Linked DNA regions of Homo sapiens: all the other regions are linked to region 3. The links come from fine-mapping of genetic effects on gene expression. A gene starts in region 3. Each other region holds a variant in brackets. All regions are shown on one strand. Distances are from middle to middle. Region 1 has its middle 52 kb from the start of SPANXA2-OT1. Region 2 has its middle 40 kb from the start of SPANXA2-OT1. Region 3 holds the start of LDOC1 (LDOC1 regulator of NFKB signaling). Region 4 has its middle 99 kb from the start of SPANXA2-OT1. Region 5 has its middle 64 kb from the start of LDOC1. Region 6 has its middle 120 kb from the start of HAPSTR2. Region 7 overlaps SPANXA2-OT1 (SPANXA2 overlapping transcript 1).

What was found.
Region 1: its variant is fine-mapped to the expression of LDOC1 in whole blood (TOPMed, PIP 0.99).
Region 2: its variant is fine-mapped to the expression of LDOC1 in whole blood (TOPMed, PIP above 0.99).
Region 4: its variant is fine-mapped to the expression of LDOC1 in whole blood (TOPMed, PIP 0.97). The same link has a PIP of 0.9 or more in blood mononuclear cells.
Region 5: its variant is fine-mapped to the expression of LDOC1 in cerebellar hemisphere (GTEx, PIP 0.98).
Region 6: its variant is fine-mapped to the expression of LDOC1 in ileum (GTEx, PIP 0.97).
Region 7: its variant is fine-mapped to the expression of LDOC1 in esophagus muscle (GTEx, PIP 0.98).

The regions. Positions count from the first base shown.
Region 1 is chrX:141,449,025-141,453,607 of GRCh38, forward strand. No RefSeq gene overlaps it. Among named protein-coding and RNA genes, the nearest start is that of SPANXA2-OT1, 52 kb to the right of the region's middle. The variant T/C (reference allele first, on the strand shown) is at 2,747.
Region 2 is chrX:141,460,878-141,465,460 of GRCh38, forward strand. No RefSeq gene overlaps it. Among named protein-coding and RNA genes, the nearest start is that of SPANXA2-OT1, 40 kb to the right of the region's middle. The variant G/C (reference allele first, on the strand shown) is at 2,236.
Region 3 is chrX:141,175,609-141,180,142 of GRCh38, forward strand. It overlaps LDOC1 (LDOC1 regulator of NFKB signaling), which reads right to left and starts at 1,521. Exons shown (of 1, transcript NM_012317.4): 1 at 1-1,521. The coding sequence starts at 1,413. The coding sequence ends at 973. RefSeq lists an enhancer at 586-1,085.
Region 4 is chrX:141,401,971-141,406,553 of GRCh38, forward strand. No RefSeq gene overlaps it. Among named protein-coding and RNA genes, the nearest start is that of SPANXA2-OT1, 99 kb to the right of the region's middle. The variant C/T (reference allele first, on the strand shown) is at 2,043.
Region 5 is chrX:141,110,986-141,115,568 of GRCh38, forward strand. No RefSeq gene overlaps it. Among named protein-coding and RNA genes, the nearest start is that of LDOC1, 64 kb to the right of the region's middle. The variant C/T (reference allele first, on the strand shown) is at 2,547.
Region 6 is chrX:140,207,199-140,211,781 of GRCh38, forward strand. No RefSeq gene overlaps it. Among named protein-coding and RNA genes, the nearest start is that of HAPSTR2, 120 kb to the left of the region's middle. The variant G/A (reference allele first, on the strand shown) is at 2,380.
Region 7 is chrX:141,512,422-141,517,004 of GRCh38, forward strand. It overlaps SPANXA2-OT1 (SPANXA2 overlapping transcript 1), which reads left to right. Exons shown (of 4, transcript NR_037183.2): 2 at 2,291-2,408. Among named protein-coding and RNA genes, the nearest start is that of SPANXA2-OT1, 12 kb to the left of the region's middle. The variant A/T (reference allele first, on the strand shown) is at 2,199.

The sequences.
Region 1 (4,583 bases), 270 kb after region 3:
TGGATGGAGAATGACTTTGAAGAGTTGACAGAAGTAGGCTTCAGAAGATCAGTAATAACAAACTTCTCTGAGCTAAAGGAGGATATTCGAACCCATCGCAGGGAAGCTAAAAACCTTGAAAATAGATTAGAAGAATTGCTAACTAGAATAAACAGCATAGAGAAGACCTTAAATGACCTGATGGAGCTGAAAACCATGGCACGAGAACTACGTGACGCACGCACAAGCTTCAGTAGCTGATTCAATCAACTGGAAGAAAGGATATCAATGATTGAAGATCAAATGAATGAAATGAAGTCAGAAGAGAAGTTTAGAGAAAAAAAGAGTAAAAAGAAACGAACAAAGCCTCCAAGAAATATGGGACTATGTGAAAAGACCAAATCTGCATTTGATTGTTGTACCTGAAAGTGACAGGGAGAATGGAACCAAGTTGGAAAACACTCTTCAGGATATTATCCAGGAGAACTTCCCCAACCTAGCAAGGCAGGCCAAAAATCAAATTCAGTAAATACAGAGAACACCACAAAGATACTCCTCGAGAAGAGCAACCCCAAGATACATAATTGTGAGATTCACCGAGGTTGAAATGAAGGAAAAAATGTTAAGGGCAGCAAGAGAGAAAGGTGAGGTTACCCACAAAGGGAAGCCCATCAGACTAACAGCATGAACAGTGGATCTCTTGGCAGAAACTCTACAAGCCAGAAGAGAGTGGGGGCTAATAGTCAACATCCTTAAAGAAAAGAATTTTCAATCCAGAATTTCATATCCAGCCAAACTAAGCTTCATAGGTGAAGGAGAAATGAAATCCTTTGCAGACAAGCAAATGCTGAGAGATTGTGTTACCACCAGGCCTGCCTTACAAGAGCTCCTGAAGGAAGCACTAAACATGGAAAGGAACAACCGGTACCAGCCACTGCAAAAACATGCCAAATTGTAAAGACCATCGATGCTAGGAAGAAACTGCATCAACTAACGAGCAAAATAACCAGCTAACATCATAATGACGGACCAAATTCACACATAACAATATTAACCTTAAATGTAAATGGGCTAAATGCCGCAATTAAAAGACACAGACTGGCAAATTGGATAAAGAATCAAGACCCATCAGTGTGCTGTATTCAGGAGACCCATCTCACATGCAGAGACACACATAGGCTCAAAATAAAGGGATGGAGGAAGATCTACCAAGCAAATGGAAAACAAAAAAAAAAAGCAGGGGTTGCAATCCTAGTTTCTGATAAAACAGACTTTAAACCAACAAAGATCAAAAGAGACAAAGAAGGCCATTACATAGTGGTAAAGGGATCAATTCAATAAGAGGAGCTAACTATCCTAAATGTATATGCACCCAATACAGGAGCACCCAGATTCATAAGGCAAGTCCTGAGTGACCTACAAAGAGACTTAGACTCCCACACAATAATAATGGGAGACTTTAACACTGCACTGTCAACATTAGACAGATCAATGAGACAGAAAGTCAACAAGGATACCCAGGAATTGAACTCAGCTCTGCACCAAGCAGACCTAATAGACATCTACAGAACTGTCCACCCCAAATCAACAGAAAGTACATTCTTCTCAGCACGACACCACACCTATTCCAAAATTGACCACATAGTTGGAAGTAAAACACTCCTCAGCAAATGTAAAAGAACAGAAATTATAAGAAACTGTCTCTCAGACCACAGTGCAATCAAACTAGAACTCAGGATTCAGAAACTCACTCAAAACCGCACAACTACATGGAAACTGAACAACCTGCTCCTGAATGACTACTGGGTAAATAACGAAATGAAGGCAGAAATAAAGATGTTCTTTGAAACCAATGAGAACAAAGATACAACATACCAGAATCTCTGGGACACATTTAAAGCAGTGTGTAGAGGGAAATTTATAGCACTAAATGCCCACAAGAGAAAGCAGGAAAGATCTAAAATGGACACCCTAACATCACAATTAAAAGAACTAGAGAAGCAAGAACAAACACATTCAAAAGCTAGCAGATGGCAAGAAATAACTAAGATCAGAGCAGAACTGAAGGAGACAGAGACACAAAAAACCCTTAAAAAAATCAATGAGTCCAGGAGCTGGTTTTTTGAAAAGATCAACACAATTGATAGACCACTAGCAAGACTAATAAAGAAGAAAAGAGAGAAGAATCAAATAGATGCAATAAAAAATGATAAAGGGGATATCACCACTGATCCCACAGAGATACGAACTACCATCAGATAATACTATAAACACCTCTATGCAAATAAATTAGAAAATCTAGAAGAAATGGATAAATTCCTTGACACATACACCTTACCAAGACTAAACCAGGAAGAAGCTGAATCACTGAATAGATGAATAACAGGCTCTGAAATTGAGGCAACAATTAATAGCCTACCAACCAAATAAAGTCCAGGACCAGAAGGATTCACAACTGAATTCTACCAGAGGTACAAAGAGGAACTTGTACCATTCCTTCTGAAACTATTCCAATCAATAGAAAAAGAGGGAATCCTCCCTAACTCATTTTACGAGGCCAGCATCATCCTGATACCAAAGCCTGGCAGAGACACAACAACAAAAAAAAGAATTTTAGACCAATATTCCTGAGGAACATAGATGCAAAAATCCTCAATAAAATACTGGCAAACCGAATCCAGCAGCACATCAAAAAGCTTATCCACTAAGATCAAGTGGGCTTCATCCCTGGGATGCAAGGCTGGTTAAACATATGCAAATCAATAAA[T/C]GTAATCCAGCATATAAACAGAACCAAAGACAAAAACCACATGATTATCTCAATAGATGCAGAAAAGGCCTTTGACAAAATTCAGCAGCCCTTCAGGCTACAAACTCTCAATAAACTAGGTATTGATGGGACGTATCTCAAAATAATAAGAGCTATTTATGACAAACCCAGAGCCAATATCATACTAAATGGGCAAAAACTGGAAGCATTCCCTTTGAAAACTGGCACAAGACAGGGATGCCCTCTCTCACCATTCCTGTTCAACATAGTGCTGGAAGCTCTGGCCAGGGCAATCAGGCAGGAGAAAGAAATAAAGGTTATTCAATTAGGAAAAGAGGAAGTCAAATTGTCCCTGTTTGCAGATGACATGATTGTATATTTAGAAAACCCCATCATGTCAGCCCAAAATCTCCTTAAGCTGATAAGCAACTTCAGCAAAGTCTCAGGATACAAAATCAATGTGGAAAAATCACAAGCATCCCTATACACCAATAACAGACAAACAGAGAGCCAAATCATGAGTGAACTCCCATTCACAATTGCTTCAAAGAGAATAAAATACCTAGGAATCCAGCTTACAGGGGATGTGAAGGACCTCTTCAAGGAGAACTACAAACCACTGCTCAACGAAATAAAAGAGGACACAAATAAATAGAAGAACATTTCATGCTCATGGATAGGAAGAATCAATATCGTGAAAATGGCCATACTGCTCCAAGGTAATTTATAGACTCAATGCCATCCTCATCATGCTACCAATGACTTTCTTCACAGAATTGGAAAAAACTACTTTAAAGTTCATACAGAACCAAAAAAGAGCCCGCATTGGCAAGACAATCCTAAGCAAAAGAACAAAGCTGGAGGCACCACGCTACCTGACTTGAAACTATACTACAGGGCTACAGTAACCACAACAGCATGGTACTGGTACCAAAACAGAGATATAGACCAATGGAACAGAACAGAGCCCTCAGAAATAATACCACATATCTACAACCATCTGATCTTTGACAAACCTGACAAAAACAAGAAATGGGGAAAGGATTCCCTATTTAATAAATGGTGCTGGGAAAAATGGCTAGCCATATGTAGAAAGCTGAAACTGGATCCCTTCCTTACACCTTATACAAAAATTAATTCAAGATGGATTGAAGACTTAAATGTTAGACTTAAAACCATAAAAACCCTAGAAGAAAACCTAAGCAATACCATTGAGGACATAGGCATGGGCAAGGACTTCATGACTAAAACACCAAAAGCAATGGCAACAAAAGCCAAAATAGACAAATGAGATCTAATTAAACTAAAGAGCTTCTGCACAGCAAAAGAAACTACCATCAGAGTGAACAGGCAACCTACAGAACGGGTGAAAATTTTTGCAATCTACCCATCTGACAAAGGGCTAATATCCAGAATCTACAAAGAACTTAAACAAATTTACAAGAAAAAAATCAAACAACCCCATCGAAAAGTGGGCCAAGGATGTGAAGACACTTCTCAAAAGAAGACATTTATGCAGCCAACAGACACATGAAAAAATGCTCATCATCACTGGCCATCAGAGAAATGCAAATCAAAACACAATGAGATACCATCTCACACCAGTTAGAATGGCAATCATTAAAATGTCAGGAAACAACAGGTGCTGGAAAGGATGTGGAGAAATGGGAACACTTTTACACTGTTGATGGGAGTGTAAACTAGTTCAACCATTGTGGAAGAGAGTCTGGCGATTCCTCAAGGATCTAGAACTAGAAATACGATTTGACCCAGCCATCCCATTACTGGGTATATACCCAAAGGATTATAAATCATGCTACTATAAAGACACATGCAC
Region 2 (4,583 bases), 290 kb after region 3:
AAGAAAAGAGAAAATCGTTGGTAAATGTGGATACAGAAAGCTTTATGTAAGAAGTCAGGAAATTGAAGAATTCTGTTCCTGGTAAAATAGAATAGTAAGCCTGAGAACAATAAAGGAAACTACTTAGAAACTTAGTGGTAGTAGTTTCTAAGAGGGATTGACTTGTCAACCTCAATTCTTCACCCTCCCCTGCAACTACACTTTGGCCACGCCATTGATGAGCAGAAAATGTACATTGTCTCCCTTAACTTGGGGCTTGGCCTTGTGAATTGCATTGGTCAATAGAATAGGGCATAAATAACAGTATGCCAGTTCTGATTCAATAACTTAAGAGGATTCACATGTTTCTGCTTGCCCTCCTATGCCTCTGCAATGACCATGAGAAGAATATCCCTGCAATAGCTGTTCACTTTTCAATCTGAGCCCAAGAAAAACAGATCTGGAGATAAATATCCCCAGCTGCTGTACCACTGAAGCAGAGACATCAGCCAATTAACAGATTGATGAAAATAATAGACAACTATAAGCCATAGAATTTGGAGGATTGTTACACATAATTATTGTGGCAATATTTAACTCACACAAGAGAACTGACCAAAGATAAGAAGAAGATGCCTCTTATGTATCCCACATGAGATTAGGAAGAAGGAAGTTAGAAAAGAGAATTATAAGGAGGGGATTGAAGCTCGGAGAGCCCAAGAAACTTGCCCAAAGTTGTGGACAAGGAAATTATGAAACAATGACTGGAATTCAGGACTGTCTGATTCCAACTCCATGTTCTTTTTGCTGTATCAATCTGTATGGTCTCAGAGGAGTCAACCTGACATTCCTGAAGAGTTCTGAATGGAGATGAGCTCTGAGAAGTACAGAAGTCTCCAGGCACCAGGGACCAGAACTCATATTCTATGGCTGATCGTGTATGAAGAAGTGCAATTTATATCACCCACTGGCTTTCTAGGGGAACTCTATATTTCTCTTTGGGGCACACATTTTTTTTAAATGTAGGTAGTATGGGAACATCAGAGTTTGGAAATCAGACAGGTTTGGATTTGAATCCCAGATACGCAATTTACTTACTATGCATATTTCAGCAATTGACTTAAACCTGGATGCACTTCAGTTTTATCATCTATGAAATGGACAAAATTTACCTTGCTGGTTTGTTCAGGGGATGGCTAAGCTTAGGCATCTTTCCCATAGTAGGTGCTCAGTAAGTGTTAGCTCCTCCCTACTTCTTATCACAAGGGCACTGCTGTCTACAAAATGAACCTTCATGCACAAAAATTAGAGAACAACAACAACGACAATAACAATAACAAAAGCTTCCTCCAGGTGTGAATTTTGTTTCCCTTAAAAGTAACAAGATACTGTCTTTATTATAAACAAATATATATTGCACCCCTCTTTTTTTCATCTTTCTTACTTCAAATTTATGTTTACCCTCTGTATTAGTTAGTTCTTGCGCTAGTATAACAACATACCTGAGACTGGGTAGTGTATAATGAAAAGGGGTTTCAGGCACAGTTCTACAAGCGGTACACGAGGCATAGCTGGCGAGGCCTCAGGAAACTTACAATCATGGCAGAAGGTGAAGAGGAAGGAGGCGTGTCTTCACATGGCCGCCAGGAAAATAAGAGACAGGGGGAGGTGCTACACACTTTTACAACAACCAGATCCTGTGAGAACTCACTCACTATCACAAGGACAGCAAAAAGGAAGTTGGCTCCCATGATTAAATCACCTTCTACCTGGCCCCTCCTCCAACTCTGTGAATTACAGTTTGTCATGGGATTTGGGTGGCAACACAGAGCCAAACCATATCACCTTTCTAATTTCCTCATGAATTACTGTGGCACCTCAACTACTACTCTGCAATATTTCTGCCAAGACTGGACAAAGGGCAACATGAGTGAGGTACTAGGGAAGAATCCCATTTCCTCTGCATCCTAAATCTTGCCATAATGTTAGCCTAAAGGTTGAATTCCAACAGCAGGGAAAGAAGGTGGAAAAGAATAATTTTTATTGATCTCTTCCCGCCGCAATTTTCTTCCTTCAGTTCGGCAGCAGTCATGTCAAGGGTAGCGGTGGAAAAATAAATGGCTTCTCTCTGTGATCTGTGTTTTATAACATCTCTGTACTCCTCTTTCTTCCTCCCTTTTTACTAGATTTACAGAAGAAAAGCAAAGGTGACAGATTAGTATAGTGATTTGTGTGTCAAACATAAAAAATAATAAT[G/C]GTTCCGTGTAGACTATAATAATAATAGTAATAGTAACAATAATGGCCGGCATTTTTCAGGCTTTTAGAATGTGTCAGGTATTATTCTAAGGCCCTTACACCCATTAACTCATTGAATCTTCACACAAATTCTGTTGAGTAGGCACTAGTATTATTCCTATTTTAAAGAAAAGAAAAAATATCTCTGACTATAACATTGGATTTATCTGTTTCTCCTTGTAACTTTATCAGTTGTTGAATCATGCATTCTGATGCTCTGTTTGTAGGTGCATACACATTAAGGATTGTCTCTTTGTCCATTCAGGCTGCTATAACAAAAGCATACATTGGATGGTTTATAAGCAGGCATTAATTTCATACTCCTGGAGACTGGGAAGTCCAAGATCAAGGTGCTGATAAATTCAGTGTCCGGAGAGGGCCTCTTCCTGGTTTGTTGGCCCCTGACTTTCAGCTGTGTCCTCAAGTGGTGGAAGGGGGAAGGAATCTCATTGGGTCTTCTTATAAGGCTGCTAATCCCATTGATGAAGCCTCAGTCCTCCTGACCTAATCACCCATCAAAGGCCACACTTCCTAATACCCTCTTTTTGGGGATTAGGATTACAACATTTAAATTGTGTGTTAGGGGGAGGGTGGGGTAGGGACACAAACGTTCAGACCATAGCAGATTGTTATGTCTTCTTGGATGACTGACTCCGTTATCATTATGTAATTATTCAATTTATCCATGATACCTTACCTTGCCTGGTGGTCTGCTCTGTCTGAAATTAATAGAGATAGTCCCACTTTCTTTTGATTAGTGGTAGCATGGCATATCTTTATTTTTAGTTTTATTTTTTTTATTATTATTATTTTTTGAGATAGAGTTTCACTCTTGTCGCCCAGGCTGGAGTGCAATGGCGCATTCTCAGCTCACTGCAACCTCCGCCTCCTGGGTTCAAGTGATTCTCCTGCCTCAGCCTCCCGAGTAGATGGGATTACAGGTGCCCGCCACCATGCACAGCTAATGTTTTTTGTATTTTTAGTAGAGACAGGGTTTCACCATGTTGGCCAGACTGGTCTCAAACTCCTGACCTCAGGTGATCTGCCCGCCTCGGCCTCCCAAAGTGCTGGGATTACAGGCATGAGCCACCGCACCTGGCTGGCATATCTTTCTATATCTGTTTACTTTTAACCTGCAAGTGTCTTTATATTTAATGTGAGTTTCTTGTAAAAAGCATATGGCTGGGTTTTGTTTTTTGATACACTATGACAATATCTGTCTTTTAATTGCGATATTTAGACCATTGATGTTTAAGTGATTATTGATACAGGTGGGTAACATTGAACACATTTGCAACTGTTTTCTATTTGTTGCCCATGTTCTGTTTCTATTTTTGTCTCCCACACTTTTTCTGCCTTTTGTAGTTATAACTAAATATTCATATGATTCCATTTTCTCTCCTTTATTAATATATCAGTCATATTCCTTCTTAATCTTTTCTTGGTGGTTTCCCTAAAGTTGCAATATATGTTTAAAACCAATCCAGGTCCACTTTCAAATAACACTATACCACTTCATGGGTAATGAAAGTAATTTAAAATAACAAAATAATCTGAATTCCTCCATCCTGTCCTTTGCAACATTGCTATCATTTATTTTACTTATATATAAGCATATAAATACAGAAGTATATATATTGAATACATTGTTGCTATTCTTTTTTAAACAAACCATTATATGTTACATCAATTACAAATAAGAAAAATAAAAGCTTTTAGTTTACTTATTCTTTCTCTAATTTCTTTATGTAGATCCAAGTGTCTAATCTATATTATTTTCCTTCTCTCTGAATAACTTTTAACATTTCTTTCAAAGCTAGTCTTCTGGCAATAAATTCTCTCAATTTTTGTTTATTCAAGAAAGTCTCTATTTCTCCTTCACTTGTGAAGGATAATTTTATAGGATTCAAAATTCTAGGTTGGTGAAGTTGTTTTTCTACCAAAACTTTAAATATTTCACTCCACCTTTTTCTTGCTTGCCTGGTTTCTGAGAAGTCAAGTGTAATTCTTGTCTTTGATCCTATATAGGTGTCTTTTGTTTCTGATGGCTTGTTTCAAGACTCTTTTCTTATCTTTGATTTTCTGCAGTTTGAAAATGGTATGCCTGGCTGGGCGTGGTGGCTCACGCCTATAATCCCAGCACTTTGGGAGGCCAAGGCGGGTGGATCACCTGAGGTCAAAAGTTTGAGACCAGCCTGGCCAACATGGTGAAACCTCATCTCCAGTAAAAATGCAAAAATTAGCTGGGCGTGGAGTGGGCACCTGTAATCCCAGCTACTCGGGAGGCTGAAGCAGGAGAATCGCTTGAA
Region 3 (4,534 bases):
GCTGTCCCCAGCAGCCTGGAGATGACAGCGGGGAATACTAGGATTGGTTGTATTCCCTGATTTCCACGGGAATAATGGTAGTCAGAGTGACAGTGGTAGAGGCCAGTGATAGCACTTAACCATTAAAAGACAATCATTTCTTTTTTTAGTGCTTGATATTTATTGAAAATAATGCCAATGCTTTTTCCAGGTAGTATTGAGGAGCTGGGCTGAGTGCTTGTTTGTTTTGTTTTTAAGTACTATTTGTCCAAATGCACACATCTGTGGGACTGCTGCAATTTTGAAAGAAAAATGACAGCTGTGTAAAACCAGTGCATAGGAAAAAAGAAGTGTCAACAATTTGGCTGCCAGGCACACCGCGCCCCTGCAGCAATCTGGTGGGGCAGGGGAGGACACTCGGAGTAGGTAGAAAACTAACCAGGCTGAACGGCCCCTTCAGGGGTTGGTGAGCTGTCCAAATCAATGTCTGAAAAGGCATAGCCAACTCTGGCATTTTCCAGGTTGGTCCTGATCTCGAAAGGTGGTAGTCTGTAGGTGGGATGTGGTGAGTGGATGTGAAGTGGCAGCATAGTTCTCTGGGAAGATGTAAGCCTGGCAGCAGGGCAGGTGGCAGCAGCAGGGCTACGGGTGGTCTGCGCAGTTTGTAACAGGGGCCTGGCCAATAGCTGGGGTTCAGGACACAGTTCAGATTAGCAGGGGAGGGATCCCGGGGATGGCCAGGGTAGATGACACTTCCAAGCACTTCCGAGTGAGTGAGGCTCCAGCCCCGACCCCAGCAGCAGGTAACTGGAGCGCTATTCCTGGAACAAAGACAAGCACTACGGAGAAATGAAGAGAGAGAGCAGACGGGCGCGGGTAGGTAAGGGGACCGGAGGGCAAGGGGGAGAGCAGTGGCTCCTGGCGGGGTGAGGGCTGCGGGGAGGGGGTGGCGGCGTGCAGGGCCCTCCCCCCCGAGGCCCGAGGGTCGAGGGCCTAATAATCATCCTCCTCTTCTTCGTCGTCGTCGTCTTCGTCGTCATCCCAGCCAAAGCACTGTTTCATCTCATCGAGGAAGGCCCGGTAATCACCTAGGATGGGGCTATCCATCTCGATGTAGGGCACCACCCACTCCTCGGCTTCCCCGGTGAGGAGGCTGATTAGGAATGCCACCTTCATGGCGTCGTTGCAGAATCGGTTCTCGTTCACGAGCATGTAAGACGCCGTCTGCACGATAAACTCGGGGAGCCGGGAGCTCTCGCCATTAAACGTTTCGGGGAAGGGCACCGGGCAGCTCGGCGGACGTACCTGGCGCAGCAGGCTGGCCCTCTCGCACACCAGCAGCCGCAGCTGTTCCATGAGCTGGCTGTTCTCGATGCTCAGGGCGCGGTGCCGCATCAGGAGCGCGTGCAGCAGCAGCACCAACTCATCCACCATTGCGAACGGCCTGGAAGGACAGGACTCGGCTCGGTTCGGCTCGGCCAAGGTGCGCACGGAGCCCTCGCAGGAAGTGCGTGTCCACGGAGGCGCTTGGTGGCCAGGGGCGGGGGGCGGGGGGCGGTGTGCGCCGGGGTCCGGGAGGCTACGCAAGCTCCGCCCACGAGGCCATTCGGACGGACGGTGCGCCGGCGCGACGGGGGAGGGGCGTGGCTAGGCTGGGAGTGGGGGGGCCGCGGCGGCGTGGGGGCGTGGCCGGGATGGGAAGGGTGTAGACAAAGAGGGCGTGGCCAGGAAAAGGATGCGCTGGGTCGCTGAACCACCGGCTTGTGGTAGGTCTCTCGGCGGGCAGTTAAAGGCTGGGATAGGCTCCCCTAGCTCCTAGTTGTGGGGCCTGCGTTAGCAGAGGACTTGGCGAGCGCTGAGTCCGGTCTCAGAGAAGGTAAATTTGTTCAAACTGAAAGGATTAGCCACCCTTCTACCTAGGTAGCTTGCACAACTCAGTGTTCCTTCGTGGGTCTGTGGCCACTAGATTCTCTTGGCTTGATGTTTTATTAACACATTTTCTTTCTTATTTAAATCTCACTCAGAGAAGTATTGACACTGCTGGCTGCCCTGTGGGAGTCACACTTCCTTTTAGAATCATGAAGACCCTCAGGGGGTCCTGCCTTTCATGAAAAAGGTAGTATTTAAACAGTGACTTCTTTAGTAGGGAAATAATATGGTATACACACACACACACACACACACACACACACACACACAAAACCTAAGTAACAAGATATAAAAAAGTTCTGCAAAATCAGCATCCAATAGTCAATTGCAGGCATCCCACATATCTTTGATTCTCTATTTCTTGTCTTGCTATTAGTGCCGTTGGCCACTGGGTATTATTCTGTACTTAAAAATGAACTGTTAAGATGTTTGTGTTTTTAAATAATTTTGTTTTTCTACTTTGAATGGATCCCTGATTCTAGAGCCAACATGAATTGTTGGCTCTGCTTTCAAATATATTGCCAATTCAATCACGTCTTGTCATTTCTGCCACTGCCACCCTGATTCCTAGCCTTTCTTTCTCACCCAGACTGCTGCAACTAATCACTTAGCTTTCACTCTTTTCTTCCTATAGTATATTCTCCATAGAGTAGCCACGGGAATCCTTTAAAACAAAAATTAGGGCCGGGCGCGGTGGCTCACGCCTGTAATCCCAGCACTTTGGGAGGCCGAGGCGGGCGGATCACGAGGTCAGGAGATCGAGACCATCCTGGCTAACAGGGTGAAACCCGTCTCTACTAAAAATACAAAAAATTAGCTGGGCGTGGTGGCGCATGCCCGTAATCCCAGCTACTCGGGAGGCTGAGGCAGGGGAATTGCTTGAACCCTGGAGGCAGAGGTTGCAGTGAGCCGAGATAGCGCCACTGCACTCCAGCCTGGGCTACAGAGCGAGACTCCGTTTCAAAAGAAAAAAAAAAAGATCCCTTCACTCTCCTGCTCAAAATCCTCCAACAGTTTCACCTGAGAATAAAGAGCAAAGTTGCAGCCAAGGCCTACAAGGCCCCTCCTTCTATCCTGTGCCTCTTCCCAGTTTCTGCTGTGCTCTAATCACTGTCCTCCTTGCTGATTCTCACACCCATCAAGCAGTTCTGGCTTCATAGCCTTTGCATCTTCTATTCCTTCTGCCTTGCAAGGCTGTCATCCCAGTTGGCTGCCTGACTCCTCCTACTGCTTTCAGAGAGAACTTTTCTGACCACCGGACCTATCAGAGCACCCTGTTCTCTGCCCCCAATCTGTAACCCTTTACTCTGCTTCATTTATCTACATAACATTTATTGTGCTACCGGCCACCATGTCGTATGTATATACAGTACTTTGCTCATCATCTGCTTCCATTTTAGAATATATAAGTCAAACACTGCTTTTGCTATCTGGTCTATCCCTAATGCCTAGAAAAGTTCTGGCCCAGAGTAGAGGCTTCATTAATGTTTGGCGAGTAAAATCATCCCAGAGTGAAGATGCTGAGATGAAAATCAGAAGTTGTCGCTGCACAAAGAGTCAAAAAATACTCTTCAAATTGTTAAATGTAAGGTTGGGCGTGGTGGCTCATGCCTGTAATCCCAGCACTTTGGGAGGCTGAGGGGGGCAGACCACCTGAGGTCAGGAGTTAAGACCAGGCTGACCAACATGGAGAAACCCTGTCTTTCCAAAAAATACAAAATTAGCCAGGTGTGGTGGTGGGCGCCTGTAATCCCAGCTACTTGGGAGGCTGAGGCAGGAGAATCACTTGAACCTGGGAGGCAGAGGTTGCCTGAGCCGAGATCACGCCATTGTGCTCCAGCCTGGGCAATAAGAGCAAAACACCATCTCAAAAAGAAAAAAAAAAAAGAAAAAAAATTGTTCAGTGTATTTTATCTCTGACCATGGATCAGTCTCGATTGTGAAACAATGACTGATGTAATAAAACTGGCTGAATAGATTTTTAAAGAAATTCGATTCGGTCCTTTAGGATAGAATTGAATGATCATCCATGGAAGTAGGAGGCTGGGAAAGAGCAGAGAAACAGGGCCAAGCCCCAAGCAGGGACACGGGGAAGATCACAGTGGTGAAAGGATAAGCAGTGAAAAAAAGAGATAGGAGGAATGTGAGCTTTTGGCCTCTCCTGTGCTATGAGCTCCGCCACCTGAGAAGTTGGCAGGCAGGGATCCACTCTCACTCTTAATTTTATCTTCAGCACCTGGCAGTGTTTACTAGCTGCTCCGTAAACATTCAGTGTAAGGATTGAGGGGAGGGATGTGAAATGTGGAAAGTAGGTCTCTGGCCATCATGCCCATTTACAGTTCAGAGTACAGGATGGGCCTGACTGGGACAGAGGTAGTGTCCAGCTTCACCTTTCATATCCAGGCCCTAATACAGGAAGAGTACTCAGGGTTCGACTCCTGGGAGCACACTTTCTTTCTTTCTTTTTCTTTTTTTTAGACAGAGTTTTGCTCGTGTTGCCCAGGCTGGAGTGCAATGGCACAATCTCGACTCACTGCAACCTCCGCCTCCCGGGTTCAAGCGATTCTCCTGCTTCAGCCTCCCGAGTAGCTGGGATTACAGGCATGCGCCACCACGCCCAGCTAAT
Region 4 (4,583 bases), 230 kb after region 3:
TATGTGTATATATATATGTATATATATGTGTGTATATATATGTATATATATATGTGTATATATATATGTATATATATATATGTATATATATATATGTATATATATATATATGTATATATATATATATATATATATGTATATAAAGGGGAGTTTATTAAATATTAACTCACACAATCAAGGTCCCATAATAGGCCATTTGCAGACTGAGGAGCAAGGAGAGCCAGTCTGAGTTCCAAAACTGAAGAACTTGGAGTCTGATGTTCGAGGGCAAGAAGCATCCACACCAGAGAAAGATGTAGGCTGGGAAGCTAAGCCAGTCTCTCTTTTCACATTTTTCTGCCTGCTTATATTCTAGCCACACTGACAGTTGATTAGATTGTGCCCTCCCAGATTAAGGGTGGATCTACCTTTCCCAGCCCATTAACTCAAATGTTAATCTCCTTTGGCAACACCCTCACAGATGCATCCAGGATCAATATTTTGTATCCTTCAATCCAATCAAATTGACACTCAGTTTTAACTATCACAGGTGGGTTCAGTTAACTATCTTCATTTTTGGAAAATTTTAGGGGCCAAGGCTCAGTTCTCAACTTTTGTACTGCGTGCTCCAACTCTGAGGGACTTGTATCAGACCCCAGTGTTATTCTCTGGCTTCTTGAGGTTATCAACCCACTGCACTAGGGGACCAAAATGCTTTTGGACCAGTGGTCACTACACTCTGATGGTTGGTGCCAGCCAAAGCGTTTCTTAGGGCAATGGTAGCGGGATCTTTTCTCATTTGCACATCCGAGCAGCAGTGGCAGTGACAGTATGAAGGGGTGCATGTAAGCAACAACATGGACGGGTGCATGCTAACTGGCTGCAGCAGGGTGTTAGTGGGTGCCAGGGTGCCTATCTTCTTGTGGGCATTCACAGCAGTGGCAGAGGCCGCACAGCTGGTATAGGGGGAGTAGGAGGGGGGCCTGTTGGTGGTTGTGCATGCTGTCACACTTGTGGTGTTAGCACAGGGGCAGAGCATTGGTGGGCACAGGTCTGTGTGCACCCTCTGGCTGCTCAGGGTTGTGGAGGGCTTGCTGTTCTGCATGCCTACTTTCACTCCAGCAGCAGTGTTGGCACAGGGGCAGGGCGCTGATGGGGGCAGGGCTAGCAGCATCTGTGCCTGTCAAAACTCTGAATGAAATGGTGATAAGGCAGGGGAGTGGGGGCAGAGTGCACTCCCACCAGCAGCAGAAGCAGGGCAGGTTGTGCATACAAACGTTCACTGGCAGGGCAGGTAAGGCAAAATCCACTCACAGACACACGTGCTGACAGATATGAAGGGCAGCCATAGGCCTGGGGAAGCTACAGTGGTGGGAGGGAGTAGGCAGGATGGTGCCTGGCCATGGGGGCTGCCCCACCGAAGCTTCCATCCATCAGACACAGTCCACTAGTGCAGGAGCTATGATGCGGTGCCTTGGGGCACCCAACGCTGCATTGCAAGCAAGTACAACCAGGATGGGGTCCTGAGAGAGGCCAGCAGACCAAGGAGTGCTCAGGTTGGACCAGCCCCATTTGATGGGCAAGACTGCCCTGCAGAGTTCAGGTCTGACAGCTCCCCTAAGGCTAAAGTCTCCTATGGGAGCAAGTCAAGGCTGAAAGGATGGGCATCCGTGGCTGTGCTCCACTACAGACACTCCCAAACCAAACCCTCTGGGCTCCGCATAGGCTGGTGTACTCACCTTAGCACTTCTGGAAGAAGCTCTCCCTGCCAACTCAAGTGTCCATGGTGGTCTAGGGATTTCCTCCTGCCAGGATTCCAGAGGCCCAGGTTGCTCCTTGCCAGTTCAACTCACTCATTTGTACCATTCGGGACCGGGAATGAGTCCCAGGGTACAGTAGCCCCGTGCAGAGTTCCCAGCTTCCTCTCTCTTTTCAGCCCATCTTCTGTGCCTTCCCTCCATCCACTTCAGTGCCTTCCTTCTGAAGATCTGTTAGGAGTGCATCAGTCATCTTGATCCCTCAGTGGCAGCTATACCATATGGCTGCATGTAGTCAACTATCTT[C/T]GAATCTTCAACTGAATCTTCTTATTTTGTTGATAAAACTTGTATAGGTCTCAGGCCTATGAATTGATGCAGATTTTCTTGACTCCTATATAATAATGGTAATAAATTAGACAATTAAAATTTTTTCCTCCCCTTTTAATTATAGTGTTCTATTCAGTTATCACTGTGTTTTCTAACACTGTAATCCAGTAGTATGCTTAAACTAAAATTCTTTGTTATGTTTATATGTCCATTCAAAAATACTTTATGATCACCTGTTGGGTGGCTGGCACAAATACTTATAGGATATATGAGTAAACAAAACAGATACAATTCCTGCTTTCATAAGGTTCAATTTTCTTAGATCCCTACATGCTAACCCTCCTGAACAATATAAGAAGGGCAGAATTATAAAGCCCTTTTCTATGATTTGAATGTATGTGTCTAAGTAACTTATGTGGCCATAACAGAATACCTGATACTTGGTAGTTTATAAAGAACATAAATGCATTTCTTACAGTTCTGGAGGCTGTTAAGTCCAAGATCAAGGCACAATTATCTAGTGTCCAGTAAGTGTTCAGTCCCTGCTTCCAAGACAACACCTTGATAGTGTGTCCTCAGGAGGGGAAAAACAGTGTGTCCTCACAGAGCAGAAGGCAGAAAGGCAAAAAAAGACAAACTCCCCTCAATCAAGCCCTTTTGTCACAGTATTAATCCATTCATCGGAGCAGAGTTATCAAGACCTAAATACGTCCCAAAAGGCCCCACCTACCAAAACTGTTGCACTGGGGATTTAATTTCCAACGTATAAATTTGGATGGATACATTTAGACCATAGCAGTGTCCTTCCAAAATTTATATGTTGGAACTTTATACCCACTGTGATAATATTAAGAGGTGGAGCCGTTGGGAAAGTGATTAAGTCATGAGTGTTCATGAATAGGATAAGTGATCTTATAAAATATGTTGAAAGGGGCACCCTAGTCCTTTTTTTCCCTTTTGTCCCATCCACCATGTGAGGACACAGTGTTTATTCCCTCCAGAGGATTCAGCAACAAAGCACCATCGTGGAAACAGAGAGTGAGCCCTTACCAGACAATGAATCTGCTAGTGCTTTGATCTTAGATTTCTCAATCTCTATAACTGTGAGGTATAAGTTTCTATTATTTATAAATTGCTTGGACTAAGGTATTTTGTTATAGCAGCAGGAATGGACTAAGACATTTTTCAATAAAATTATTACAATGAGAAAAAACATGGAAACTATTGATGATAAATTAACCTAAAGCAGCAGAATGGAAAATAACTTCTGTACTTAATAATGTAATGCATATAATAATAATATCTACCATTAGAGGAGCACACATAAATAAATAACAGCTATAATTTATTGAGGTCTCTAATAGCACCATGTACTTTATCTGATTGAATTCCTATCTCAAACATGTAATGTAATTACAATTATTACTGAAGCTCACTGGTTAAGGCAAGGATGGGAAGAGAAGAAGAGCGGAACTCTCTCAAAGGCACAGAGATAGTAAATGGCAAAGCCAGGACTCCAAACCTATTGCTTATCTTACCTCACTAAAACAATGTCAGTCAAATACAAGGATGAATAATACATCAAAAGCATTTTCCACTCTCCAGGAGCTCATGAGTCACCCAAAGTTGTAGACAACTAAAAACAATAACATTTACTATGCACTTACTATCACCTCAGTGCTGTGCTAAACCATTTAAAAATACTTTATTTCACTTAATCTTTACAATGAGACTATAAAATAAGTACTGTTAGTATCTCTGTTTTAAAGATAAGGGAACCAAGGGAAACTTGCCTAAGGTCACACAGCTAATAAGGAAGCTGGGACAAGGATTGAGACATACAAAAAACAACATTTTTTTGTACATTAAGGTAAACAGATTATTGGTGAGATTCCTTTGGAAAACTGCCTGTAATAACTTGCTTTCATCCTTTTTCCAGCAGAAAACACAGCACTGAAGCAGATTATATTTTCATGAGTCATTTTCTACTTATGCTACTGAGAGATTTATTTGTTCCATAAACATTAGCTACCATCCTCAATCCAGTGGTATGCAATATTGTGTAAGTGCAGCTCTCCCACACCTGCAGAGGAGTGACCTCAGGGAGCAAACAGAGGTTGCCTCAGCAGTCTCTCTTTCTCTCTCTCTCTCTATTTCATAGACCTATGATCCTGTTCTCAGCAACACTTAAAGTAGCTCTTCTCCTGTGCTTTAATGAAAGCTTGCTCTGACACTGCTATTGATAAGGGGTATTTGATGTCACTTTGGAACGAGTGGACATGTGTATAAGTATATATTTACAGGAAATTAATCCATCCTCTGGTCATGGAAGTTGGAAGAACATAAAAGCATGTAAGCAGCCTGAGATGGTTGACTCACAAGGAAATGACTAAGAGTCACCAAAATGCTATGACTTGGACACCTAAACTATCTAGCATGAGGATATACGCTCTCTTAGAGACTATAAAACTCCACTATGTATTTTATGAGCAGGATTGTGGAAGCTTCTAAATATGGCTA
Region 5 (4,583 bases), 65 kb before region 3:
ATTACAGTAGGAGAGAATATACATCATAGAGAACTATTTTTATCAATTATGGGGGCATCTCAGTAGGAAGATAATAAAAGGATTTGTTATAGTGTTTGGATTTGTATTAGGTGATTTGCGGGAGATTTTGAGGAAGCAGAATTTTTCTCTGGGTTGAATACTCTCGGGAAGTCGGGGTAATATGATGATCAGGTATCTTAATACACCTTATCTATTGTGAGGGCAGTCTAAAGCAAGGGTAGACTTGTAATTGGTAAAAGAAAAAAACCCAGCAACTTATATTATTCAGAATAGTGAGATAACTGGTCATTCTTGTGACTTGCACAATGTCCATGTTCTGTCTGTGTTCAGACATGATTGCAGAGCGGTCTTGTTTTCGCCTTCATCCGTCATGGTCACACAGCGGCCTCATTTAATGCTGATGTTCCTGATAGAGTAATACCAAGGCCTAGCTGTGAGTGCCAAGCCAGCTCCTAGCAACAACTGGGCATAGCTTGTGAATGTCAGAAGCTGTTTTTCTCTTTCTCAAAACCAGTTAAACATTTAGTTCAGTGATTTGTCCTGCAGCTGGTGGATGAGATGGAATTTTCAAAAGCGGAAAAAAATAGAACAAGGTATGTTCTTTCTCAAAAGACATGTTTTCCAGCACTATTTCTATACGGCAAATTATTTCTTATACAAAGTTAAAATATAAAGAAGAGATTAGGAGAAAATACTTGTGATATGTATAACAAACAAATGACTATACAAATTTTTTCTATAAATAAAAAATCAAACAACCCAATAGAAAAATATGGCAACAATTCACAGATTAATAACTACAAATAGATAACAAAAGATATTCAACTTTACTATTCGTAAAGTAAATATAAATTAAAACAAAGAAGCAATTTTCTTCCATTGGATTGACAACAAAAATCATGAGGGAATAGGAAATCCTAATACTGTTAGAACAAAGTACAAGTACTTTGCAGGATATTTTGGCAATTTCTAGCAAACTTTAAAATGCTCATTAAATTTTTAAGAATTTTCCTTTTAGAAATGCTACACATGTGCACGAAAACATATGATTCAAAAATGTTCATTGTAACATTTGTTAAACAGAAAAACTGGTGAAAAACATTTGTACATCAATAGAGAAATACCTACATTTAAAAATGATGTATCCATACTATGAAGTTATATGCAGACAATTAAAATATTGACATAGATATGTATGGCAAATATAGAGGAAAAACAAAGATACAGAATTAGACAAGAAAATTAATTTACAAAAGTACTTAATATCTCATTTATGTCAAAATATTTATGTAGGCCAAACGCAGCAGCTCATGCCTGCAATCCCAACGTTTTGGGAGGCTGAGGCAGGAGGATTGCCTGAGTCCAGGAATTCGAGACCAGCCAGGGCAACACAGTGAGAACTCTTCTCTACAAAAAAAAAAAAAAAAAAAAAAAAAAAAAGAGCCAGGTGTGGTGACTCATGCCTGTAGTCCCAGCTACTCAGGAGGCTGAGGTGGGAGAATTGCTTGAGCCTGGGAGGTTGAGGCTGCAGAGAGCTGAGAATATGCCACTGCACTGCAGCCTGGGCGACAGAGCAAGACCCTGTTTAAAAAATATATAATTATGTATTTTTAATATTTGCATATATGTATATGACTATATTATGAATCTTTGTATATATATTTAAATGAATATAAAATTATCTGTAAGTGAGCATACCAATTGCAAGCTGTTTCCTTTGAGGACCAGTAATTCAGTTGAATTTTGGGAGAATAGAGGGTGGAGAGAATGGTAGAAATGCAAGTTTTTCTGTATATACATCTGCACTGCTTGAAATTTTTATAAGAAAATATTATTTTCATAATAAAAAGTTATATAATAATATATTCTTTTTTTTTTTTTTCGAGACGGAGTTTCACTCTTGTTGCCCAGGCTGGAGTGCAATGGCGTGATCTCAGCTCACCACAACCTCTGCCTCCCGAGTTCAAGTGATTCTCCTCCCTCAGCCTCCTGAGTAGCTGGGATTACGGGCATGTGTCACCACGCCCAGCTAATTTTGTATTTTTAGTAGAGACGGGGTTTCTCCATGTTGATCAGGCTGGTCTCGAACTCCTGACCTCAGGCGATCCACCTGCCTTGGCCTCCCAAAGTGCTGGGATTACAGGCATGAGCCACCATGCCCGGCCAATAATGTATTCTCTTAGGAACTGTCTAGCTGAGATGGGGTAACTTGTAATGGAGTTATCTTCCTGGCAGAAACAACTAAAAACACTGGACTATATACATATATATATATATAAATGTTTTTTAAGCGTTAGAAATTAGGTAGTGTGAGAAAATAATTCCTTACAGAGGGAAAACAAAGTGAACCCTTACGATTGTCCTGGCTTACTGTCTGAAAGGAGACTTCAGGCTACATCATAGAAAGGGAGAACTCAGGCCGGCCGCGGTGGCTCACACCTGTAATCCCATAGCATTTTGGGAGGCCAAGGTGGGGGGATCACAAGGTCAGGAGAGCGAGACAATCCTGGCTAACACGGTGAAAC[C/T]CCGTCTCCCCTAAAAATCCAAAAATTAGCCAGGTGTGGGGGCACACGCCTGTAGTCCCAGCTACTCAGGAGGCTGAGGCAGGAGAATTGCTTGAACCCTGGAGACGGAGGTTGCAGTGAGCTGAGATCTGGCCACTGCACTCCAGCCTGGGCGACAGAGCAAGACTCCATCTCAAAATAAACAAATAAGTAAATAAATAAAATAAAAAGAAACGGAGAACCTAAATGGAATCCAGTGGCCTCCCTAAGTTGAGAAGACAGAGCTAGGAGTCCAAAAAGGGAAATACAGCTACAATTTTCAGGGAAGAATACAAGAGAAAAGAAAGCTGCACAAAAAATAAGATAACTGCAGCGATTTGTTGAAGGTCCTTCTCAGCTTTAGTTGAGCATGAATCAGTGCATGAATGTGAGGAAACTAACTGAAGCTGGAGAAGCAACTATCTGTAAACAGCAGAAAAAAACAATTCTTAGAGCTCAAACATTTCTTTTTCCCACAAGTCAGAGTGAAAAGCCTTGTATTTCACATGATATTAGGTAGGTTCGTCAGAGGGTATCGCCACAGTAGTGGAAGAAAAATAGTCCTAGATTAATAGCTAGTCTGGTTCTGTCTAATGAAGTTTACAAACAAGCCTTGAAAGAATCAATGTTTTTTTTTTCCAAGTAAATTTAAAGCATCTCAGATTTAAGTGTGAAAATAATATTAGGAGAAGAAAAACACCACCAAAAAGGTAAAATCCACATTGTCTGACATCAAATAAAAAGTTACCAATCACGCATGAAGGAAAGAAAATAAGAGCAGAAAAGCCATTCAATAGAAAGAGACCAGAAAATGGCACCTATAGAATGAGTAGACAAGAACATTAAAACGGCTACAGACGGCTGGGTGCAGTGGCTCATGCCTGTAATCCCAGCACTTTGGGAGGCTGAGGCGGGCAGATCACGAGGTCAGGAGATCGAGACCATCCGGGCTAACACGGTGAAACCCCGTCCCTACTAAAAACACAAAACATTAGCCGGGCGTGGTGGCAGGCGCCTGTAGTCCCAGCTACTCGAGAGGCTGAGGCAGGAGAATCGCTTGAACCCAGGAGGGGGTTTCAGTGAGCCAAGGTAGTGCCACTGCACTCCAGCCTCGGCAACAAAGCAAGACTCCATCTCAAAAAAAAAAAAAAAAAAAGCTACAGGTATTCTAACTATATTATATATGTTCAATAAATAAGAGGAAAGGTTGAACATGTTAAGTAAACATATGAAAGATATAAAACATACCAAAATCAAACTTCTATGGATATAAATTACAGGTCTGAAATGAAAAATAAACTGAATGGGATATATAGCAGATTAGACACTGAGAAGAAAATACCAACACTACAGGTTGAATTTTGTTCCCCCAAATTAATATGTTGAAGTTTCAACCCCCAGTGCTGTAGAATGTCACATTATTTTAATACAAGGTTCTTGTAGAAGTAATGAGCTAAGATGAAGTAATTAGGGCAAGACTTAATCCAATACTACTGGCCTTTTAATAAAAAGGGGAAATTTGGACATAGACCCAGTGAGAATGTCACATAAAAACAAAGGCAGAGATTGGAATGATGCTTCTGAAAGCCAAGAAATGCCAGTGTCCGCCAGAAAATCACTGATTTAGCTAGGCAAGAGACATGGTAGATTCTGAGAGGCCTCCGAAGAAACCGACCCTGTCAACACCTTGATAATAAACTTACAGCCTCCAGAGCTGTGAGCAAATACATGATGTATAAGCCACTCAGTTTGTGGTATTTTATTATGGCCACCTTAGCAAATTAAAGCTACCTGTAACATTGAAAACATTAGAAGAGTAATTTCCACATTAAATGCAAAGAGGAAACATTATTTCAAAACAAAGCTAGAATACCTGTATAATATGATCCGGTAGCTTTCAGAGGCAAGAATATCACATGCAAAATGAGGGACACTGTAAACTGATAAAGGGAGAATTGACCAAGGAAATATAAGAATTTAAATATTTAATATTTAGGTATCCAAAATAACACTGCTTCA
Region 6 (4,583 bases), 970 kb before region 3:
ATTTTTATTTTTTTAATTTCCATGGGTTTTGGGGGAGCAGGTGGTATTTGTTTACATGGGTAAGTTCTTTAGTGAAAACCTGTTTTTTAAAGAAGAGTTTAATCTTTTGTTTTATTCATGTGACCAATTTATAATACAAAATACTTGAGCCATCAGATGATACTAATAGATTTTGCTTTAATGGCTCTCTGTGTAGAACTTCCTTTGTGAGAACTGGTGACAGATCACTATGTAGGAATTAATAGCATCAATGAGTAAGAATCACTTTATGCTTATTTTTAGTAGAATCAAGAGAACTCCCTTCTGAAGCATTTACAGATTCGTAAATTATATACCAAAATCAGCAAGATTTTGAGAATGCCGGTGAGTTGTTAGTAAAGAACTAGTGCTCAGCAGCTCTGCCAAAGCAAGACCTATAAGAGGGGAGGCATATCTATCTACCGTAAGGAATTTGTCTTGAAATATTACATTTTAACTCTTACTTGAAACAACTCCAACTGAAGGACACAGATTGGTATGGGTGTTGGTTGTAATGGTGCTTACAGGAATGCAGAAAGACCTAGCTTTTTAATTGATGTATCAAAATCTGCAAGCTTTTGCTCGCTAGTGGTTAATTCTAATATGAAAAGGTTGAGAAGATGGTTACTTTTCCCACATGACTCAGATGAGTACTGAATTGAATAAAAAGTGGGCAGTGGTTGTGGTGTTATATGTGTATGGTGGGCAGGAGGGAATTAAAAGTAATGGCAGCAAGGCACAGCATCTCACTTCCTTCACTTTGAGCTTCTCTTCTTAGCCCTTCTAAGCATTCCATCACCATATTTTTTTTTCCTTTTCATGATTACTCATATTGTTCTCTGCCTAAATCCCATCATTCTAGGCCAGGCCCCATTCTTAACTTCTTCATTATACAACTATGATAATAAGTATACATATATTGAGCAATGTACATGTGTGAAACCCTATGGGAGACATTCTACACACATGATAATGTTTAATCTCCACCAGACATTGTGGAATTAGTAAAAAGTGGTAGGAGATGATTTGAAGAAATAAGGAGAAACCAGATCAGGTAGGGGCTTGTGGGCCATGACAGTAATTTAGATTATTCTGAATGTGAATGGATGTCATTGGAGGGTTTTGAGCAGTAGAGTGATACAGTCTGACTTATATCATGAAGTGAGTTCTCTGGATGTCCTGTAGAATGTTGATTAAAAGGGGCCAAGAGCAGAAGCATGAAGACCAGTAAGGAGGCTTTTGGAATGGTAATGAAAAGATAATGGTATCTTGGGTCAGGGAAGTAGTGATGGAAATGGTAAGAAGTGCTGGATTCTAGATATCTTGCGAAGAATGAACTGACACTTCAGGCTGATGGGTTGGATATAGGATAGTGACGGAAAGAAATTTAAGGATGACTTGAAGGTTTTTGGCCTGACCAACGGGGTATATGGTGGTGCCATTTATTTAGATGAGGAACACTGAGGGAGAGTTTAGGGCGAGACTGAAAACCAAGAGTTCAACTTTAGGCACATAGAGTTTGAGATGCCTATTAGATACCCAAGTGGAGAAGTTAGGTAGGTAGTTGTATATATGAGTCTAGAGATAAGAAGAATTTAACTGCTATTGCCACTCATTGATAGGGCTAGAAAATTATAGGAAGCAATTGGCCTGGGAGGTGGGGGAATAGAAGACCAAAGATAGACTTTTCTTGTGAGGAACTGGCCCAAGCTGCCATTGGCTCTACTATATCTTCAATATCACTATGTAACAGGGGTTTTGAAAATCTGTTATAAGACCTGTTCTGGACAACTGTCCTAGAAACTATGTAGGAGCAACATGAAATGACAATAAAAAGGAAGGATGGAGAATAGAACATGTGGAAGAAAAATAAAATTATATTCTATTCAAAATGAGCTTCTACACCAAAATTTCAAAACGCGTGAAAAATATCTACACTTAAGTGAGGTCACCAAGGAAATAAACGATCAGAATATGAATTCATTCAGAATGAAATGATTTTATGAAAAGATCTGTCATTTAAAAAATATGTTTAGGATGCTGAAAGAGGTAAATGAACAACTTTCATTGAAAATAGAAAATTATGAAATAAACAAGCAAAAAGAAATGAAAAATGAGACCACATGAATATAAAAGAACCAATCAGAAATCCTGGACATGAAAAAAAGTCATTTAAATAAAAAATTCAAAAGAACATAAACTTTGGGTTGCATATAGTCAGAGAGAACATATTAAATTGCAAGACAGAGTACTGAGAAATTCTAAATATAGCAAAGAGAATGATTTTTTAAAAACAGAATAATGACATATGAGCTATAGATTGAGAGGCTTCAACAAATATTCTGTAGGAATGACAGAAGT[G/A]GTGAAGAATATCGCAGAGAAGTAATGTTTGCTGATATGATAACTGAAAAAACATCCAGAATTGAATGCTTGAGTTCTCAGTTCTGTAGTATACATGAGATTTGAGCAGGATAAATGGAAATATACAGCTAGATACATCATAATAAAACTGCAGAACATTAAGGATTAAGATACTATCTTTAAAACTACCAGAAAACATTGATTACCTATGAAAGAATCAATTAGACTCACAGTATATTTATCATCAGTAAAAAATAGTGTTATCTTAAAGTGCTAGATAAAAATAATTTCAAGAGTGAGGGTAGATCAAAGTATTTTTACACATGCTCAGCCTGCTATTTTACAGGTCAGAGAGGGTCACTAAAGGAACTCTTAAAATATATACTTAAAAAGAAGAAAGGGCAAGTTTAGAATACAAGAACAGGTTAAAACAGCATAGACATGGAATCAACCTAAATGCCCATCAAAGGTAGACTGGATAAAGAAAATGTGGTACATATACACCATGAAATACCATGCAGCTATAAAAAAGAATGAGATAATATCCTTTGTAGCAACATAGATGGATTTGGAAGACATTATCCTAAGTGAACTAATGCAGGAACAGAAAATCAAACACCACATGTTCTCACTTATAAGTGGGAGCTACACATTGAGTACACATGTGATCTGGTTTAGATCTGTGTCCCCGCCCAAATCTCATGTTGATTTGTAATTTGAATGTTGGAGGAGGGGCCTGGTGTGAGGTGATTGGATCATGGGGGCAGATTTCTCTTTTGCTGTTCTCATGATAGTGACTGAGTTCTCACGAGATCTGATTGTTTAAAAGTGTGTAGCACCTTCCCCTTCGCTCTCTTCCTCCTGCTCTGGCCATGTAAGACCTGCTTGCTTCCCCTTCACCTTCCACCATGATTGAAAGTTTCCTGAGGCCTCCCCAGCCATACTGCCTATACATCCTGTGGAACTATGAGCCAATTAAACCTTTTTTTTTTTTTTTTTAAATGGATTACTTAGTCTCAGGCATTTCTTTATAGCAGTGCAAGAACGGACTAATACAACATGGACACCTAATAATCAGTATTGAGTATCAATCAGTGCAAAGAAGGGAATAATAGACACCAGGGCCTACTTGAGGGTGAAGCGTAGGAGGAGGGTGAGAATAAAAAAACTACCTGTCAGGTACCGTGTTTATTACCTGGGGGATGAAATAATCTGTACACCAAACCCCTGCAACATGTAATTTATCCATATAACAAACATCCACATGTACCCCTGAAACTAAAAGTTAAAAAAACCAAAAATAGATTATATAGTTATATATTTAATTAATTGAATGTAAGAATTACTTTTTGATGTTTAAGAAAATATAAAATTAATGCTCAAGATAAAATGAAAAATATTAGAGTATTTAGTTTGAGGTTATAATGTGCTAAGTTCTATATCATATTCAGTAGGTGAATGAAAATTATAATAATTTTAGGTTGTGTTAGAAAAAATTTATATATCCTTATGACAGAAGTGGTGAAGAGTATTGCAGAGAAAAAATTAGTACAGTTTTATATATCCTTAAAATATTAAAAATAACCAGTAAAAACTAGAAATATTATCTATAGCTTCAAAATATGTAGAGAAAAAATATAGAAAACTTTATAAATCAAATTGAAAGTCAAGAGAAAAAAAGAAACAGAAAATGATGCTATACAAAAAACATAAAATGAGAGAAAATTTCTAAAAATGTCAGCAATCATTATAAATGTGAATAGATTAAATTCAGCTATATAGAGGGAAAGATTACCAAATTATGAAACAAAGTCCAATTATATGCTGTTTGTATGATATACACCTAAAACCAAACCAACAGAACATTGAAGTTAATGAAATAGAACAAATAAATGCTATGTGAATTCTAACCAAAAAAGGATTAGTGAGATAATAATATATCAAAGTGGAATTTGAGAGAAAATCATTAATAAAGAGAAACATTGCATAAAAATACATCAACTAGGTATAATAACCGTGGACTTGTATGCCCCTAACTTTGAAATATACAAACAAAACCTAACAGATACACAGAGAGAATTAAACAAATCCACAATTATAGCAAGAGATCTTAGCACATCTCTCTTCAAAATAGAAAGACCAACTGAGATAAATGTCGAGTAGAGAATCCAAAATTACTCAGCATATTAAGAATCAGAAAAAAT
Region 7 (4,583 bases), 340 kb after region 3:
GTTAATACCCAAACTGCTATGGTTTTCTTTTCCTGTAGAAAAGCATACAACCATATATCTAACTTAGAAGTCTTACATAGGCATTTTTTTTTCGCCTTGACTATATAAATTCTTGCTTGTCAAATACTCTTGGAACTCTCTTTTCTTTCTTCCCTATTGGTTCCCTTATTAATAAATTAAAATGTTCACATCTATTTATATTAAAACATTGTCACATTACCCATACTATTTTAAATGAACTTCAAAGTTCTTTTTATTGCCGCAAGGCCCTGTGTGATCACACAACTGCTTAACGCTCTGGGCTCATCCCCCACCAGTCTTCTAAGCTGTGCTGGCTTTCTTGCTGTCCTAAAACACAGCAGGTCATGTTTCATCTTAAAGCCCTTTCAGCTTGCTCTACCAACTGCTTGGAAATCTTTCCTCCCAGATTTCAGTTTGGATCCATCCCTCCCATCTGTCAGATCTCTGCTCAAATGTAAGCTCTTCATAGATGCTTCCCTGACCACCCCATCCAAAATGTCAAAAACACATCCACTTTATAAACCCCTTAACCTGCGTCGCTTTTTCAAACGTTTCACTGTCTACCCACCATCGATTCTACCATTAACATTTTTTTTTTTTTGAGATGGAGTTTCGCTCCTGTTGCCCAGGCTGGAGGGCAGTGGTGCGATATCGGCTCACTGCAACCTGCGGCTCCCGGGTTCAAGTGATTCTCCTGCCTCAGCCTCCGGAGTAGCTGGGATCACAGGCATGCGCCACCATGCCCGGCTAATTTTGTATTTTAAGTAGAGATGGGGTTTCTCCATGTCGTTCAGGCTGGTCTCGACTTCCTGACCTCAGGTGTTCCACCCGCCTCGGCCTCCCAAAGTGCTGGGATTACAAGCGTCAGCCATTGCACCTGGTCTACTATGAACATTTTTAACATTGCGTAACATTTTATAAATACACCTGGGGTTGTGCTCATTGTTTTCATGTTTCCACAACTGCAAGTTAAAACCCAGCAGCGTTGTGGCTTTGCCTGTTTTGAGCACTGCTCTATCCTCAGTGTTTGTAACAACTCTTGGGATGCAGCAGATGTGGTAGATTAAATTGTCATAATTATTCAGTCACTTGTAGTACTGGTATTATACATACATTTCCCTGCCATGGCCTTATGATAGTTGGATGATGTAATGGTTAATTTTATATGTCAAGTTGATTGGGTCACCTGGTACCGAGATCTCAAATTAAACATTACTTCTGGGTATGTCTTTGAAAGTGTTTCTAGAGGAGATTATCATGATCTGAGAAGAGAGTTGAAATGTACCTTTGAAGTACCTTTAATGCTGGGCTTGTCTCGTCTACTGCCATTGCTGTGAGAAAAAAAAAAAGATGCCCTGTCTAGTTGCGACTGCTTCAACCTATATACCGGAATGAGACACATAGTGAAGCACACCTATATTCAGTTTTCAGCCTGAATTTATTCTGCCCTCATTGACTTTGAAGACCCATGGATGAGAAAAATGAGTATTTTTGTCTACCTCTGAGATATTATACTTATGTGTTATGTAGCCTTACTGTACCAATAGCTACTTTAGGCTCTAAGTGTTCAATAGGTTATCATTAAATGAATGAAATGAATTGTAAATATTTGGCACATGTTGCTTCGTACGATTAAAAAGCATTTTGTTAAACTACTAGGCATTTTACACTGGGAATCATCATGTTCCTATGTAGAATGTATTAGTAGAGGAAATTTTGGATGTTGGAGTATGGTAGCTCTTCTTCCTGTCTTCATAAATGTCGTCTAATAGCTAAACAGAAGCTGAATGTAGCACTTTGAAAGCTCTAGCAAGGAACGTGATATTGTCAGATTCCAAGCCCATGGTTTGACAAGATCTCTGGCTGGAGTTCCTCGCCAGTAGAATGGATTAAAAGTAAATAGGCTGTTAATTTATGTGTGCTTTACTGCCCAAGAAACAAAAATCCTAGCCAACAACCTTGATCCCTTTGTCTGTATGCTTATACCAATACAAAGCAGACTACTAAAGCAGTGAAGCCTCTTATGAGGAATAATCTGGAAAATGATTATCCTGCCTCTGACTTTGGGGAAATACTGATGAGGGATACTTTCCCAGAACAGAACCAGGGGAAGCCAGCTTGGGTGATCAGGAAACTCAATTCACTTCTAGGACAGAACATCCTCTGTGTTGCTGTCT[A/T]ACAGATTATATTGTATTGTAAAGCATTATCACTTTATTTTCCCTCCTGTCGTTTTCCAAAAATAATAACTTTTTTTTTTTTATTGAGACAGAGTCTCACTCTTGTCACCAGGCTGGAGTGCATTGGCGCGATCTTGGCTCACTGCATCCTCTGCCTCCCGGGTTCAAGCGATTCTCCTGCCTCAGCCTCCCGAGTAGCTGGAACTACAGGTGGGTGCCGTCATGCACAGCTAATTTTTGTGTTTCTAGTAGAGACGGGGTTTCACCATGTTGGCCAGGATGGTCTAAAATAATCACTTTTATTAATGTTGCCTTGTTTTTCCTGCATCATGGGTACATGAATGTGTTTGGGGTTAGTATAATACTATTTAGTCTTGGATCACTGATGCATCACTTAGAGATTATGGACTTGAGTTGAGTGCATTACCCAGAAGAAACTTTAGGGAGCCTCTCTTTAGGGACACTTGAAGGAATTTCATGTAGGTGTGGACACTTTTAAAGATGTATGTATTAGAAGGACGCAGAACATGGTTGTTGTTTGCCTACAGATTATCCATTTCCCCCTTCTTTCTTCTTAAGAGAACCGTAATTTTCTTAAGGCATTTGCCTTCCTTCATGAAGCTCATGTAATTGAAAAAAAGGTGCCCTTATCTTCAGCTTCAGAATAAATGATAAACTAATCAATCATAATAATGCCTTTCCTCTTGCCAGCAATTATTTCAGGAAGCCAAGCTTAAGCTAATCAGTATGTGGCAATGTCTAGGGATGAAGATGTGATGTAATTTGGCTCAGCGAGAAAGAAGGTATAAATAGGGTGATAGAATTTCTCTGGTAGAAAATGAACAAAGACGTGCATAGCTTTGATGGCTCTTGCAGGTATCATATAACCATGAGGGGTACTAGCATTATTAATACGAAGCTGAAAATGTGGACAGGAGGGCTAAGAAATTACATGAACTAATTACATCATTAAAGAGTTGATCCAGTCCACCCAGAAGCCTTCACTTCACTCGAAATACCTTTTGTGTGTGATAACATACGCCTCATTGCTTGAGTTGTGGATTTTGGTTACTTGCAGCTGTAAGCATTCTGACTGATACAAGTCATTCTTGGTGTGTGATTTTGAATTGGTGACTTAAATTCTCCAAGGTTCAATTTTCTCAACTTTTTTTTCTGAAAATACTATATCAATCACTTTTGTCTTCATAGTATCTAAATAACATTGGGGGTAATCCAGAGAGAAATGTGAGTCAGGGCCTTACCTTTTACTTGGAAACTGAATGAGGGGCAGATATTCTTAACTTCAAGTTGTTGGCATAGACCCAGGGGACGAGCATAGCCATGTGGACGCTTCTGCCAGGAGCTCTGACACTTTAGGAGGTATACTAAGATGTAGAGAAAGTCAACACTTATTTGCAGTGTTTGTGGCAGAGGCTAGAGTCCAGTAGTGTGACAGTATTGAGAAGTGACAGTGCTTCCAGTGGGACCCTAAGAAAACTGCTTCTCTGGGGTGATTCTGGGTGAGCTCTTCCTCCCTTGACTATTGCCATATATTCTTCACCTGACTCTCTGCTCTTCTCATGGACTCTAAGAACAATGTGTTATCTCTCTAACGAATTGTTTTTCTGCTTATATTACCAGACTCGGTGTCTGTTGTTCGCAAATGAAAGCACCAACTAGAATAGTTATTTGCCTAATAAGGTTGATTTGAGGACTAGATGAGATAACATTTAAGTAGATGCTGAATAAAATTAAATTTAAGATTCACAAGGTTTTGCTTGAGTAACAAATGTATCCTACATTTTGGATACATGTAATTATAAATATCTACTTTTCACTCATGCTACAAGTCTACTGTGGATTGGCTATTTCTCGGTGCTATGTCATTTTTTTGAGACGAAGTCTCGTTCTGTCGCCCAGGCTGGAGTGCAGTAGTGCGATCTAGGGTCACTACAACCTCTGCCTCCCAAGTAGCTGAGGTTAAAGTAGCTGTAGTTAAAGTGATTCTCCTGCCTCAGCCTCCCAAGTAGCTGGGATTACAGACGCCCACCACCATGCCTGGCTAATTTCTGTATTTTTAATACAGACAGGGTTTCACCAAGTTGGTCAGGCTGGTTTTGAACTCCTGACCTCAGGTGATCCGCCCGCCTCAGCCACCCAAAGTGCTGGGATTACAGGCGTGAACCACCGCGCCCAGCTGCTATGCTATGTCATCTTTACTTCAGAAAACAAGCTGAGGGAGTATCTTCTTTCTGGAATACTGTCAGTCTTCATGGCAGAGAGAAAGGAGACAAAGTGAACCACTCTCTTAAACCTTCTGCCCGGAAAAGACACATATCACTTCCACATTTCACTAGCCCAAGTGAGTCCCGTGGGCTCTCCTGA